Homo sapiens: one gene and its partner. The protein of the gene in region 2 purifies or fractionates together with the protein of the main gene of each other region. This does not show direct contact. Each region holds a gene or a part of one and is shown on either strand. Other genes may lie near its edges.

What was found. Proteins that work in one complex are often made in the same cells at the same time.
Region 1: the proteins of IGSF21 (region 2) and RBPMS2 purify together in Homo sapiens (affinity purification with mass spectrometry; one large-scale study listed by BioGRID and IntAct). This does not show direct contact.

What each region holds. Positions count from the first base shown.
Region 1 is NC_000015.10:64,769,060-64,772,715, forward strand, and holds part of RBPMS2 (RNA-binding protein with multiple splicing 2), read right to left. Parts: intron 1-3,656.
Region 2 is NC_000001.11:18,369,782-18,373,437, forward strand, and holds part of IGSF21 (immunoglobulin superfamily member 21 precursor), read left to right. Parts: intron 1-3,656. UniProt on the Homo sapiens protein: Involved in synaptic inhibition in the brain. Selectively regulates inhibitory presynaptic differentiation through interacting with presynaptic NRXN2.

The DNA of each region.
Region 1 (3,656 bases), on a different chromosome or scaffold from region 2:
CACTGCACTCCAGCCTGGGCGACAGAGCAAGACTTCGTCTCAAAAAAAAAAAAAAAAAAAAAAAAGAATTTTAAAAATATGCAAGATGTGTAAGGATATAGATTTTTTAAAAAAGAATTTAGGTCAGGTGCAGTGGCTCACATCTGCAATCCCAGCACTTTGGGAGGCCGAGGCCTCCCAACATGGAGAAACCCCATCTCTACTAAAAATACAGAATTAGCTGGGCGTGGTAGCACATGCCTATAATCCCCCTACTTGGGAGGCTGAGGCAGAAGAATTGCTTGAACCCAGGAGGTGGAGGTTGCGGTGAGCCGAGATCGCGCCATTGCACTCCAGCCTGGGCAACAAGAGCGAAACTCCGTCTCAAAAAAAAAAAAAAAAAGAATTTAAAAAATAAAATCCATCCTGGCTAACACGGTGAAACCCCATCTCTACTAAAAAATACAAAAAATTAGCCGGGCGTAGCAGCGGGCGCCTGTAGTCCCAGCTACTCTGGAGGCTGAGGCAGGAGAATGGCGTGAACCCAGGAGGCAGAGCTTGCAGTGAGCTGAGATCGCGCCACTGCACTTCAGCCTGGGCGACAGAGCGAGACTCCATCTCAAAAATAAATAAATAAATAAAAATAAAATAAAACTGGCTTGGTTTGTTTATTATCTTCGTGCAATGGCAACTCTAAATCATATCTGTGATAAAAGGCCCCTCCTGGCAGGGGCTGACAGCTCCCATCACCCATCTTGGGATGCCACCAGCCCAAAGGAAACTAGTCCGGAGTCAGCCTCTGGGCTTCTGGTTGGCATCACCCAAAACTCAGCCATTAGAAACTTTAATTGCAGATACCCGGCTGGGCGCGGTGGCTCACGCCTGTAATCCCAGCACTTTGGGAGGCCGAGGCAGGAGGATCAGGAGGTCAAGAGTTCGAGACCAGCCTGACCAACACAGTGAAACCCCGTCTCTGCTAAAAATATAAAAATTAGCTGGCCGTAGTGGTGCGCGCCTGTAATCCCAGCTACTTGGGAGGCTGAGGCAGGATAATCGCTTGAACCTGGGAGGCAGAGGTTGCAGTGAGCCAAGATCATACCACTGCATTCCAGCCTGGGTGACATGGCGAGACTCCGTCTCAAAAAAAAGAAAAAAAAAAGAAAATTGCAGATACCTTTCTCCCCCTGCCTTCCAGTCTCACCAAAAACCCTAATATAAAACACAATAGCAGTATACTGTGTGGTTAAGAGCAAACTCTGGGTTCAAATCCCAACCTCCCCACTTAATAGCTACATGAAAGTTATTTAACCTCTCTGTGCCTCACTTTCCTCATTTATGAAATGGTGATAATAATGTAAGTACTTCATAATGCTCTTACAAAGATTAAGAGTTAAAATGGTGCAGAACATATAACAATGCCTGGCATAAATACAACATACAGGTTCATTATTATTAGTACAGCCTCTCCCTTAGATTACTTAGGCAGAGGGGACACATCCACAATAACTCCCAGTGAGGAGGGGAACCTGACCTCCTACTGCTATATGCCTGGCAGGGCTTCTAGGTGAGTGCCCAGAAACAGAGAAGCCTCCATTCCCTCATATTCAAAAAAAGCCTGCAGACCAAGATGTCCCAGATGCTTTCAAATGCTATTGATGTTAAAGAAAAGGGAGGTGCCCAAATAGCACACTGGATCCAGGAATTACCTCGCACTCATCTAGAGTGCCTTATCCCCCACCTCCCACACCCCCCTCCCCGTTCCATCCACACAAGTCTAAGCACCTGTTCACCCACATCTCAGGGAGGGCTGACCTCAAGCCACCCAGTGGTCCCAGGGCTCTGGCTGCTTCCTGACACCCCTCTGAGGACACATGATGGGCTCTAGGATACCAGGCCTGCAAGCAGCAGCCCTGTCCCAGCCACACTGGGATGAGGTGGAAGGGCAGGGAAGGGCAAAGCCCCTCAGGTCAAACTGTAGCCCCCTTAGCTGCCATTAACCCCTGCCTTTCTATAGCTTACCATTAAGCTGGCAAAAACTTTTTTAACTCTTAAGAAACTTATATCCTCCCTCAACCCAATAGTATAAATACCACTCTCCCCCTTCCAGGGGTGCCCCCCAGTTAAAAATTACTTTAACAATCTCCAAACTCTTCAAGTTGTATACACTAAATATACACCTTTATATATGCCAATCATACCTCAAAAAAGTGGTTTTTAAAAATTACTATAACTTAGTATCACCTCGTACCGTTTAGTTGTCCCTCGATATCTGAGGCGGATTGGTTCCAGGGTTCCCCCTTGGATATCAACATCTCCAGATGTTCAAGTCTCTTATATAAAATTTGTATATAACCTATGCACAGGCCGGGCACGGTGGCTCACGTCTGTAATCTCAGCACTTTGGGAGGCCGAGCTGGATGGACCACTTGAGGTCAGGAGTTCAAGACCAGCCTGGCCAACATGGTGAAACCCCGTCTCTACTAAAAATACAAAAATTAGCCAGGCATGGTGGCGTGCACCTGCAATCCTGGAGGCTGAGGCAGGAGAATCACTTGAACCTGGGAGGAGGTTGCAGTGAGCCGAGATTGCGCCACTGCACCCCAATCTGGGCAACAGAGACTGTCTCAAAAACAAAACAAGGCTGGGCGCCGTGGCTCAGGCCTGTAATCCCAGCACTTTGGGAGACTGAGGTGGGCAGGTCACCTGAGGACAGGAGTTCAAGACCAGCCTGGCCAACATGGTGAAATCCTGTCTCTACTAAAAAACAAAAATTAGCCAGGTATGGTGGCGGGCACCTGTAATCCCAGCTACTCAGGAGGCTGAGGCAGGAGAATTGCTTGAACCTGGGAGGCAGAGGTTGCAGTGAGCTGAGATTGTGCCACTGCACTCCAGCCTGGGTGACAAGAGTGAAACTCCCCTTCAAACAAATAAAAAAATAACCTATGCACATTTTCTGGATACTTTAACTCATCTCTAGATTATTCACAATACCTAATACAATGTGAATGCTATGTAAATAGTTGTTATATTTATTTGTATTATTTTTTATTATTGTATTTTTTATCTACAACTGGATTCATGGATAGGGAACCCATAGAAATGGAAGGCCAACAGCAACTGTATTATGAAAGCAAGGTCTCCACTTTCAAAATAGAAATCACATTTACCCCTCTTCAGAGACATGGTAATTACCCAGTTATCCCTTGAGAATCACTAAGACAGGACATTTAGGTCTGAAGTTTGGCAGCACTGATACAGCCTGCCCCGGACAGGTTCATGTACTGTATTACCTCATGTCGTCCCCAGCTCCAGTCAAGACTTACCTGCAGGACAGCACAACCTCTAGATTGGGAGGGACATTCAGCTCCTCCCCTTAATTCCTTACTGCCCTCCTTAGCTTTCAAAGGGTATCAAAGCTTCGAACACATCTTCCCAAGTGGCAGAAAAATGCCAATTTTCCCGTAATACCACAGTCATTACTGCCCTAATTCCAAACTCTCATTATGGCTGCACTGCCTGATATTGCTGCAATATAGCAAACTCCAGGTAGTTACCCAAACAAGCCATGTGGTTACACAAACCTACCTCCTCACTTATACATGCGACTCCCTCCTCTTGGAATGCCTTTTCCACCCCCACAGGTCTAACCTTGCTCCTCCTACTCACCCACATCTCAG
Region 2 (3,656 bases):
CTGAAATGCCACCCCTCCAGGAAGATTTCTCTGACTCTCCCCCAACCCTTTGAGCTGTTTGTGCCTCTTCTCAGTTCTTGTCTCACCAGATTTGTACCTTTCTCGTAATCTGGACCACAGATGCCTGAGCGTCCTGGCACCCATCTCACTAAATGGCAACCATGTCCTTCCCATTGATCAAACCAGAAGCCTTGCAGACCCCTCACCTTTTCCACTCTTCCCTCCTATCCCACATGCAAACCATCATTAAGCCCTGGCAGCTCAACTTCAGAATATATCCCAAATCTGCCACTCCTCACGGTCTCCTCTCCAAATACCCAACCCAAGCACCATCAGTTCAAGCCTGGGTTATTAGAGTAGCCTTCAAACTGATCGTTCTGCTTCCACTTTCACCCTATCCTATTTCCCACCCCGATTGATCTACTTAAAATATAAATCAGATCATGACACCCGCCCAAAACCTTCCTGTGGTAGACAAATAGATTGACAAAACAGGATAGAGTCCAGAAATAGATCTACATACACAGAGTTCATTGATTTTTGCCAAAGACCCCCAAGGCGGTTCAATCAGGAAAGAGAAGTTCTCTTAAAAAATGACCCTGAAACAAATGAATAGGCATAAGGAAAAATTAAACCTGGACCCCTGCCTCGCACACACACAAAAATTAATTTGAAATGAATCATAGATTTAAAAGTAGAAGTCAGCATCATGAAGCCTCTAGAACAAAACATAGCCTTTGTGATATTTGTGTAACAAAGGTTTCTTAAAGTGGTCACAAAATAAAAACTAAATAAAAACTAAATGATAAATTGAATTTGGTAAATTGGACTTAATCAAAAATTAAATCTTCTGCTCTTACAAAGATATCCTTGAGAAAAAAGAAAAGCAAACTATAGAATGAGAGAAAATACTCTCAATACATATATCTGACAAAGCATTTGTAACCAGAATATATAAAGAACTATGACAAATCAATAATGAAAGACTACCCAATTTTTTAAAAAAGAAAATATACAAATGGCTAATAAACATGTAAAAACCTACACTACATTATTAGTTATTAGAGAAATGAAGATTCCAACCTCCATGAGATACCATTTCACATCTATTAGAGTGGCTAAAATTTTAAAAACTGACAATACCAGATGTTGACAAGAAGGTAGAACAATCAGAATTCTCATGCTTTGCTGACTGCAGAATAAAATGGTACTACTACTTTGAAAAACTGGCAGTTTCTTACAAAGATAAAAATATTTCTGTTCTTATGACCCAACGATTTCACTCCTAGGTATTTACCCAAGAGAAATGAAAACATATGTCCACAGCAGCTTTATTCATGGCAACAGCAAAAACAACAGAACTGTAAATAATCTAAATGTCCATAATTAGAAAAATGAATAAACGTATTTGTAGTATATTCATATAACAAAATACTTTTTATCAATACAAATGAATGAACTCATGATACCTGCATTAGCATGGATGGAGCTCAAAAACATGTTGATCAGGCTGGGCACGGTGGCTTACACTTGCAATCTCAGAACTTTGGGAGGCCGAGGCAGGTGGATCACTTGCAGCCGGGAGTTTGAGACCAGCCTGGCCAACATGGTGAAACCTCGGCTCTACTGAAAATACAAAAATTAGCTGGGTATGGTAGCTCATGCCTGTAGGCCCAACTACTTGGGAGGCTGAGGCAGGAGAATCCCTTGAACCTGGGAGGTGGAGGTTGCAGTGAGCTGAGATTGCGCCACTGCACTCCAGCCTAGGCAATAGAGTAAGACTCCATTTCAAAAAAAAAAAAAAATGTTGATCAAAAGAAGCCAGATGACAGAGTACTCACTGTGTGAGTCCATTTATTTGAAATTCTAGAACAAAAAATAAATATCCATTGATAGAAATGGGAACAGTGTTGGCCTATGAAGAATGGAAATTGACTGGAAGGAGGCCTCTGCTCGAGTCCTCTACTCAGAGGGTCCTTCCTTGAACACTCTATCTAAAGCAGCCTCTTCCTCCTGGTTCCTTCCACCCCTTCTCTTGCTTTGTTTTCTTACATAACTCATTTCCACCTACAAGTATATTCTATATTTGCTTATTGTCTGAATCGCCCACAAGGTAGGAATTGAGATTTGGTTTTAGATGTAATGGCAGTCAGGTGAACTGGCTTGAACAATTCATTCTTCATATATGTTTTAACTGTGATAAAATTTACATATTGGGAAATGCAGGTCCTTCAGTGCACAATTTGACAGATTTTAATAAATGTGAATGCTGGTGTAACCACCACCTCAACCAAACTCTGCGCATTCCCATCACCCACTAGAATTTAAATGGCACATGGGCAGGGTCTTCTTTATCCGCCTAGTTCACAGAGTACAGGGCTCAGAACAACCCCAACATAGTTCTTAATAAACAACTGTTTAATAGTTAATTAATTAATGCTTTTCTAGGTTGTTGAGAAGATTAAGTAAGGCAGTGCATACAAAGTGCTTATAGTGACAGGCAGAGGAAATATTCAGGAAATATAAGCTACTGTTATTATTCATCATAGTATCCCCAACAGTGACCGGGAATAGTGACCACCACAAATTAGGTGTACAATAAAGAATTAGATGGATAGAGCAAATGAAGAAATGGATGGGTAAGCAAATTGGTAGGTTTATGGGTAGGCACTTGGATGGATTGTTGGATGTTTGAATAGATGAATGAATAAAATGAATGCTTGGATGGATGGAAGGATGGATGGATGGATGGATGGATGGATGGATGGATGGATGTTTTGATGGATGGATGGATATTTGGATGGATGTTTGGAGGGATGGATGAATGGGTGGATGTTTGGATGGATGGATAGATGGATGGATGGATGGATGGATGTTTGGATGGGTGGATGGAGGGATGGATGGATGAGTGTTTAGATGGGTGGATGGAGGGATGGATGGATGAGTGTTTAGATGGATGAATGGATGGATGGATGAATGGATGTTTGGATAGATGTTTGGAGGGATGGATGAATAGATGGATGTTTGGAAGGATGGATATTTGGATGGATGGATGGATGGATGGATGGATGGATGGATGGATGGGTGGATGGATGGATGGATGGATGGATGAGTGGGTGAATGGGTGAGTGATTGTCTTAGAAAGCATCCAGAATTCCTAGGGGAAACTTAGAGGAGCTTTTCCTTGAGATTCCACAGTACTATCCTTGCATCAGGATGCTCAGGACAGGTAAGGAAGGCAACTTATATGTCCAGGATCTTTTTCATTCCCTGAGCAGATAGACATCACTTTACATTTCACATTGCAGTCTTATCTCCCTCCTCCATTGTCATTTTCAGAGTATTTCCTCAAGCAGGGTGGTAGCCTATTCTCCCCATTTACAAGTTAGAAAACTGAAGCCCAACAAGTTGAAATGACTCATCCAAGTCATGCAGCCAGAAAGTAGAGGGCTAGGTGTCAATCCTGGGTCTCTGGACTCCTGCTCTTTCTCTACGTCCAGGGCTTGAGAGGCAGGAAAGTCCGGAGACTAAGAGCATTCCTTTCGGGCACTCTCAGCCATTGTGGTCTAGAAGCAGGCAAGGGGGTGTAGGTTTTGATTGTCTGGAGCTGCTAATGGGCCAGGCTCGGAGTGTCAGGAGGCTGAGGGTGGAAGGAG